Regions from separate parts of the Homo sapiens genome. Here region 1 is reported to be linked to region 2. The links are microRNA targets in miRTarBase. Many come from high-throughput screens and were not tested one by one. Region 2 holds a microRNA gene; the other region holds the end of a gene's coding sequence.

The links. The annotated mature microRNA hsa-miR-339-3p reads UGAGCGCCUCGACGACAGAGCCG and lies in region 2 at 2,907-2,929, opposite strand. An mRNA with a match to its seed (bases 2 to 7 or 8) in the 3' UTR can be bound and repressed. Matches are read on the target gene's strand: a 7mer-m8 pairs with bases 2 to 8, a 7mer-A1 pairs with bases 2 to 7 and ends in A, and an 8mer does both.
Region 1: miRTarBase lists AKIRIN1 as a target of hsa-miR-339-3p. Seed matches in the 3' UTR shown: 7mer-A1 at 1,231-1,237.

What each region holds. Positions count from the first base shown.
Region 1 is chr1:39,003,586-39,007,968 of GRCh38, forward strand. AKIRIN1 (akirin 1) reads left to right here. Exons shown (of 5, transcript NM_024595.3): 5 at 460-2,474. The coding sequence ends at 470. Among named protein-coding and RNA genes, the nearest start is that of AKIRIN1, 15 kb to the left of the region's middle.
Region 2 is chr7:1,020,049-1,024,431 of GRCh38, forward strand. MIR339 (microRNA 339) reads right to left here and starts at 2,978; the gene lies at 2,885-2,978. All of the region lies in intron 2 of CHLSN (cholesin), which reads right to left. RefSeq lists an enhancer at 3,089-3,646.

The DNA of each region.
Region 1 (4,383 bases), not on the chromosome of region 2:
TATGAGGGAGTACTATTATTAGCTCCATTTTACTGGTAAAGATAGCATTTAAAGAGGTTAAATAATTTGCCCAAGCTTATACAGCTAGTGGTTCAGCTAGGATTAAAATCTAGGTAGTCTGACTTGAGCACCAATTTGTTACCTGTCTTTTCTCCAGAAAGATAGTTTCAGTTGTTAATTTATGAAAGTTGATTCCTTAAGTTAGTTTATCAAGTGTGGTCAGGATTTCTTATTCTAAATAATTTGCAACTACCAGATATTCAAAGCATAAAATATTAACAGTTGTATATCTAACTGAATTTCAGTCAGGTTCCTTAAATTCTTGATCTTTAGTATCTTTTAAGTGGTGAGTCATCGTTCATGCTATTTCTCACATTTACTGTTAGTGAAAATTTTTAAAGCATGACACTACAGTTTTTAGTATTCTTACCCTTTTTGTTTTTTATTCTTAATTTACAGATGTGTCATGAAGCTTTGTCACATATCTGGGTACCAGGTTTGACCTCAAGAGATGGCTGCTGTACACTTTTTGCAACTGGTTTGATGTCACATTTCAGCTCCAACTTTGCATCCTGAGAACACTTAAACGTTTCTGCAGGTCCATTTTATACAACTTGAAAGACCGTAAAACTTTCTGGTTGCCACAAGCATATCTTTCTTTTCTGCTCATCCAATAAACAGCTGTGCCCTACTGTGATAGATTTTCCAAACAAAAATACCTGGAGCAGCAGTTTAGCAAAATATGCCTTCAGTGGCATTCAACAAATGGAGTTTCCCCAAGCACAGTTCTGTAAGAAGTGCGTGTGAGAGTGTGTGTATATGTGTGTATGTGTATTTTAAGTTATTATTTGTATTGTGCAAAAATTTTTTTTTGATCTTGGGGATTCTGGCTGTGAATTTGGTGCACGACAATTATGGTAAAAAAACATTTGCTTGGTCTAAAGAAGATCATTAATGTTTTGTGACCATACAAGTTGTAACAGTGGATTGTTTTTATGTGTAGGTATTGTTAAATACAGGGACTGTTTCCAGGCACAGAATATGAATCGTAAGTTAGGATGGACATTAGATGTGATTATGATGATAAAGCGAAGGTCTGCGGTCCTATATCTACAGACACGTGGTGAGAAATTAGAACAAACTGGAGACGGGCCATTGACACATGGACTCTGCCTGGGCATGTTAGGTTAATTCTTTGACTCCAAGCCTTAAAATACTCACATGGAGTCAGCGCTCACCTCATTCACACAATTATCATAGAGCTCCCTGGACACTGAACCTCTAAAGGGAAAAGGTCTACCCTGGAGCCAGGAGCATCAGGGTTGGCTTGGGAGCATGAGAGGTGAGCCCAGGGCTAGGCCTGGGCCAGGCCCCGGCAGCACTGCTACTTGGGAGGAGCCACTTCACCTTTGTATTAGTTATTAAAAAATATAATTTGGGCTGGGCGCAGTGGCTCACGCCTGTAATCCCAGCACTTTGGGAGTCCGAGGCATGCGGATCACTTGAGGTCAGGAGTTCGAGACCACCCTGGCCAATATGGTGAAACCCCATCTCTACTAAAAATACAACAAAGTTAGCCGGGCGTGGTGGCAGGCGTCTGTAATCCCAGCTGCTTGGGAGGCTGAGGCAGGAGAATCACTTGAACCCTGGAGGTGGCGGTTGCAGTGAGCACAGATCATGCCACTGCACTCCAGCCTGGGCAACAAAACGAGACTTCGTCTCAAAAAAAAAAAAAAAACATAGAATTTGGATCCTTTGGTCGGGTTCTCCCAAATTCTTTTGAGGTGTCCATGGTCAACTGCTTCAGCTTTGTTTTGGCAACCCCCTGCCCGAAGTCGCATATAGGCTGTTCTTCACCTTGTTTCCAAGGCTGAGGAACAGAAAGTAGCCTCTGTTTTGAGGAGGTGGAAGTTAAGTATACATTTATTTTTTACTGTGACTTGTTCAGGACCACATTTTACAAAATGCCTTGTTTCCTTCATTGTTTCTGGAAAGGAAAGTTCTATTAATATTGTTTTACTTTGAATATAGAATAGTTTTTTTAATTAGGGCTTATTTTGAAAAATTCTGAGTTTAATTCAAATGTATGCCAATACCTTCCAAAGTAAGGTAATATTCAGAGACAGTTGTTGTGATCAGATGGCTTAGAGAAATTTCTGGAATATTCACATTCGAAGATTCCTTATTAATGAATGTCTTTGACTTAAATCTAACCAAAAACTGCAACATTATTCTTTGTACATTTTCATTATATAGTGTTAACAAGCTTAGTTGCAAACAAATAAAATACTTAAGCTATTTGTTTACCTTGCCTTCTTAATACTGTGATAATGTTTATTAATTCAAATAACTTATGTGAGAGCTGCTATAACCATTTCCCCAGTTCAACATTGCATTGAAAATTTATGGACCTTTAAAAAAAAAAGCCCAACAGTGATTTTTTTTTAATAATTAAAGAATGATTTTACTTTGTATTTGAAGGGTGATTTGTTTCATCTCTTCTTTTTTCAGGGTAGTCACTTGTTCCTAAAAGAGGAACATAGCAGTGGCTGTAATGGGAATGGCTCTGCAGTGGGCTAGTCACACCAAAATAAAGAAAGGGCAGCTGTGGGAGCCATCAGAAGCTGTGGAGGCTGGACTGGTAATGGGGAATGCTGCCCCACTGAAGTCTTGTTTTAGAGATCAGTGTGATGTGCTCACTTAACTATAAAGTGTCAGTCCCCATTCCAACTAAGTGGCTCCTGGCTGGGAAGTAGAGTAGGTTTCTCTAAGGAAAATGACACCTGCTCACCACCCGCCCCACTATACCACATTGTTGTTAGGCTATCATATAATGATAAGGTAGCCCTCTGAGGCCACAAGGTAAGACCAAACCACCAGGGCTGGGTTTTGGGATCCCCTCTAAAGAGACCACACATGTTTGTTTAGTGTTTATAATCTAGAGAAAAGACAACTGGGACAGAAAATGGGGACCTGGAAGGTAGGTCTCAGACTGGTGAATGAATTTTTCCCTAGACCTTGATTTCCAGAGCTTGAATTTAAGGGCACTCCCAGGTAGAGAAATGTCTTTGTCCCATGGAAATTATAGACCAAGGAAGACGTCAACCTATAAAAACGTATAAGGGTTTCTCAGGAACAGTGTTTTCAGAATATCTGGTGAGCTAGCTAATTTTTTTCTCTATTTTAATTCCAGTTATTATCCTTGATAAAGTCTTAAGCTTAAGAGGAAAAAGTAAGTGTCCATCCTTGGGTCAGAAGTTAAAAGGAAGATCAGAGCTCCTAAGGCAGTGATAATTGTTAAGATCTTCCAAAGGGGAAGACCATCAGAGAGTACAAGAATTTAAGCCAGCGGGTGGCGCACGCCTGTAATCCCAGCACTTTGGAAGGCTGAGGGGCAGATCACCCGAGGTCTGGAGTTTGAGACCAGCTTGACCAACATGGTGAAACCCCATCTCTACTAAAATACAAAAATTAGCTGGGCGTAGTGGCGGGCGCCTGTAATCTCAGCTACTTGGAAGGCTGAGGCGGGAGAATCAACCTGAAACCATGAGGCGGAGGTTGCAGTGAGCCGAGATTGTGCCATTGCACTCCAGCCTGGCAACAGAGTTAAGACTATGTCTCAAAAAAAAAAAAGGATTTAAGCCAATCTTTCAAACCTGGTGAATCTTCTTACCATGGAGGATTGGTTGGCTAGCATAGTAAAGGACTGACTGCGTGGTTGTAGCTCTGTAGTTTGGTTTCTTCTCTGCCACTAATTTGGTTATGTCAGCCTTGCCAGATTACTAAACTTGCTGAAACATGGCTTGCTTACCTGTAAAATCGAGGTTAATAGTAGGTTCATATTGGGTTTTGTTTTCAAATGCAAGAAATCATCCATGTAAAGAAAGTATTTAGCACAGCTTAGGGCATAGACTATGCACTTTACAATGTTAGAGCAGGTTTCTTTATAGTAGTCTTCGTCAGACCTGGAGACCCAAACTTTTGTGTCCCAAGTAGTGATTCTCAGCTTTCCAATATGAATAGCCCCTTGTTAACATAAAGATCTCACTTTTTCTTATTAGAATTTGTACCTTTGTTTGATTAAGGAAATAAAAGATGAATGACAAATGAATTTGGTAATGCCTTTCTGTGAATCTGTATTCAGTATGTTTTGTATGTTAATATAGCAGGGTCATACAAAAACTGGCCTATTTTTGTAAAGTTTTGTAGAAACACTGCTACACCTATTCATTTGTCTGTGGCAGTTTTCACACTAACTCCAGACTTGAGTAGAGTAGGTGCTACAAAGACCAAAGCATGGGCCACAGAGCTGAAAATACTTACTCTGTGTCCTTTTACAGAAAAGTGTGCTGGCCTTTGCACTAAAGCATGAAGAAACATTTG
Region 2 (4,383 bases):
AGCCTCTCTTCCCACTGAGGAGAGATCCAAGGGCCGGCGGAGTGGTGGTGTCTGCTGCTCTGCGGGAACACGGGCACCAGGCCCAGCAGTGCATGGATGCGGCAGGCCCCGCGTGCGATGCCCTGGTCCCCACGACTGTTTCTTCCCACGCCGCGGAGTGCATTCCCTCATGCTCCCGTCCTGTGAACACGCGCTGCAGCCTCTGCCCTCCTGGGGCTCCCTGAGAGAGGGGGCACCCCTTGCTCCCATCACAGTCCTCCTGCAGCCTGGGGCCCCGCCCAGCACGCCCACCAAAGGGGAGGCCCGCTCTCCTGTCAGAGCCAGGACAGCCTCTCCAAGAACTCTTCCTGGGCCCCAGAGAGGAGCCCCCTAGGTTCGCTTCTCGCCAGCCGCTGCCCCATCTTGCGTCTCCACCCAAGGGCCCCTCGGCGCCCCCACCTGGAGCCCCCACTATCGAGATATGTCTGGCGGATACCACACACAAGGGGGCTGTAGCGGGTTGGGGAACAGGCCAACCCCTCCCAGACTGCAGGGACAGCTAGTCTCACACAGCTAAGACCAAGATGATGTAAGGAAATGAATGACAGTAAACCCAGCCCTTACCGAACCCACCTCCCGAGCAGGGAGGACCTGCAGGAAACAGAGGCTCCCATTCCTGTTCACCTCTGATCTCAGGGGCAGACACCAGCCCATCACTGCCGTCTGCTGACCACCCCTGCAGACGGCCTGGGCCTTGGATGTCCTGCTCCTCTGGGCTCCCCAGGCTGTGTGAAACGGAGGAGTGCAGGGGTCAGGACCCCTCGACTTTCTTGGGGGCAATCAGGCCGTTTGTAACGTCCTGATACAGCAGAGCTGGGGACTGGGGTTACGAAAGACACCACCAGGTGGAGCCTTCAGATGGGACCTCCCAGCAGGGCCTCCAGGCTGGGGACCTTCAGGCAGGTACCTCCAGGCTGGGGACCTTCGGGCAGGTACCTCCAGGTTGGGGACCTCCCAGCAGGGCCTCCAGGCTGGGGACCTTCAGGCAGGCACCTCCAGGCTGGGGACCTCGCAGCAGGGAACTCCAGGTTGGGAACCTCCAGGCTGGAGACATTCCAGTAGGGACCTTCTGGTTGGGGATCACCAGGTTAAGAACCTCCAGGTTGGGGACCTCCAGACTGGGGACCTCCCAGCACGGACCCCCAGGTTGGGAACCTCCAGGCTGAGGATCTCCCAGCAGGGACCTCTAGTGTGGACCTCCAGGCTGGCACCCATGGGGCAGGTTTCTTTCTTCTTCCCCAGAAGCCTTTTCATCGTGGCAGTAGGACCTGACCTTGACAGAGATGATATTGCGGATTTCAGTGACTGAACCAGAGTCGGAAGCTGAAGGGCTCTGCCCAGCCTTCCTGTCTTCATCCATTAAGTCTGATCGGCAGTGGTGGCCACCTGGGCTGCTGCTTTGACAAGATGCCAGTAGTTGGAGCTGGGACCCCAGGGAGCACTGTCCATCCACCGCACAGGAGTAGGGCTTCAGCAGCTGTCAGTCATCAATCATTTCCCCATGCTGTTGGATGGGAGAGGGACAATCTGCCAGCCCCAGTGTGACTGGCTTTGCTGCCACCGCAGTGCCCTCTGGGAACCCCGGCAGGTCGGCTGGAGGCAGGACACCACCCCCCTAACCCCTCCCTACTTGTCACCAGACAGAAACCACAGCTCACCAACAACCATACACAAACAGCGCACTAAAAGAAAGCATGCGGCAAAAATACCCGCCCAGCGAGAACTGTGCCTGGCACAGGGAAACACACTGGGATGCGCGCCCTTCCGCGGGGCGAGGCTGGGTTTTGGGGTATAAACTGAGTCCTGGGGAGCAGGAGCCTGAGGGGCACCCAGGGCAGCTCCCTCGGCCTGGGTCACAAGGTTCGATCCTCCGCGGGGGTGGCAGGAAAGCCCAAGTCCCTCGGCACACCCAGGTGACAGCGATGACGGCCCACAGGCGTGGCGCCTGGGCCACATCGGACAGGCCATGTCCTGGAGCACTCGAGGCCCCCTGGACAGGGCAACCAACCCTGAGTCCACCGGAGTCTGCTCGCAGACCACCAGGAGCCCCGCTGCACTGTTCGTGAGCCACGGTGGTGACGGCAGCTCAGGAGGGAAGGACCAGAAGCCTGGCCCCGTCCCACGAGGACAGACGCAGGCCTGCGGGGAGGCATGTCCCCACCCACGGGCGCCTCCTGGACCACGAGCTCCTCTTTCTCCTGCATCGCCTCAGACCCCACCCAGGGGTTCCAAGGTCAGGAGCCTGGTCCCACGTCCCACAGCCCTCTCATGGGGCACCCGTACGGATTCTGTTCCAATTTAAAGAAAACCTTAATCAGATTTGTCACCTCAATTATTAGAATCCCACGGCGTTAACTCACAGTAGTAAACTGCTTTTTCTGAGAAACAAGAGTTTTTTAAATTAAGCCTTTTATTTTAACGCAATCGCAGGTGACGGCCGTCGTGAGGGAACACGGGACGCCCACGTGCCCTCCACCACCTCCTCCCACGGCAACCCTCGCAGAGTAGCCAGGACCACATTCGGATCCGGACTCTGAAATGACAGTCCCACAACCAACAGCATCGATGTGGTCTTCTTAATGATCAGAAACACACAGGGGATTAATTTACTCTTATTCTGCAAAATAAACAAGCTCTCAAATTCTTTAAAGGTGAATCCCCCCCAACCGTCCTCCCTCCCCAGTTACTTCCTCCCTAGGACACCAGTGGAACATCCCATGCTCTCCCCCTTCCATGTTGATACCGAATAAAACACACTGCATCAGAAGACCCACGCATACGAGTCCAGGGGCTGCTACAAAGCGCGGCGACGTCTCCGCGGCGAGCTGGCCACTCCATGGTCCCGGCGCAGACACTGGGGCAGGCGCCGGCTCTGTCGTCGAGGCGCTCACAGGCAGGCACACGTGAGCTCCTGGAGGACAGGGAGAGCGGCCGCCCCGCCCCTGCGGAGCACAGGACGCTTCCTGCCACCCCTGCAGAGCATGGGACGCTTCCTGCCATGGTGCCGTGGCAATGGGTGGCACCTGCCTGTGGCCCCTTCTCAGAAGGACGTTTTAAACGCGTGAGGTCTGATGCACAGCCACAGGGAGACACAGACGAGCAGATGTGGGCATCCGAGTATTTACAAGGTCTGGTGGCTCCTGCAGCCGCGACACGGGCTGAGCGCAAGTGATGTGTGAGGTGTCCCCAACAGATGGCACGGGGAGCGCCCACACCCGCCACCGCGGGGTCTGCGGAAGCTCGTGTCAGCTGGAGGTTAGGGAAGACGCACAGGGGCTCATTCTCCACCCAGGTTCAAACTCCCTGAACTCACGAGACCCAGGCTGAAGACATGGACAGACTCCCAGCCCCAGCGCCCCTCTGACAGCACACCCGAGGCCTCCTGGGAACCTGGGACCCCTTGCAGGGTCCCCCGCAGGCTCCTTCCTAGGAAGGAGGTTCCTGCCCTACTCCACATTTCTCTCCATCCAACTTCCAACTCCTTCCCACTGGGCCCTGGAGAACATGACGAAGACTGTGGGGGCCTCCTCCCAGGAAACACACACACACACACACACACACACACACACACACACACACACACACACACACCAGCAACGCGCCCAGACCCCAATCCCTGGCAGCCCAACTCCTCGTTCTACAGAGAAGGGGTGAGGATCTCCAGGGGTGACTGCTCACATCTCGGCACATGTAGAAGGCAGGGCTGGAGCAGCGGCCCCTGCAGCCCAGGCCAGGGGACTGGAGGCCCTTCCACAGCAGCCCTTTCCTTTTGATACACGGTCTTGCTCTGTGGCCCAGGCTGGACTGCAGCGGCACCATCACAGTTTACTGCAGCCTCGACCTCCTGGGCTCAAGCAATCCTCCCACCTCAGCCTCCCAAGCAACCAGGACTATAGGCATGTGCCACCATGCCTGGCCAGTTTTTAAATTTTTTATAGAGATAGGACCAAGGCTGCTCTCACACTCCTGAGCTAAAGTGATCCTCCTTGCCGGCCTCCCAAAGTGCTGGGATTATAGGCATGAGTTTTCAAACTCCTGGGCCACAGCGATCCTTCCGGCCAGCCTCAAAGTGCTGGGATTATAGGTGTGAGCCCACGGTGCACAGCCCCCACTTTCTTCCTAAAAACCCTGCAGCTTGGCTGACAGTGGGACCTGCCTCCCTACTCCCGCCTGCAGGAGCTCAGAAGCCTCAGCTCAAGAGGAGCCCTTGCCAGAGACGTGGGACCAGGAATGGGCCCCACAGAGCCCTGCCCGTGGGCTTCCTAAACAGCCTGAGTTCAGCTGCACACACCAACGATGTAGGCGGGTTGCAATAAACAGCAAGAAACGGACCCATGGGACAGG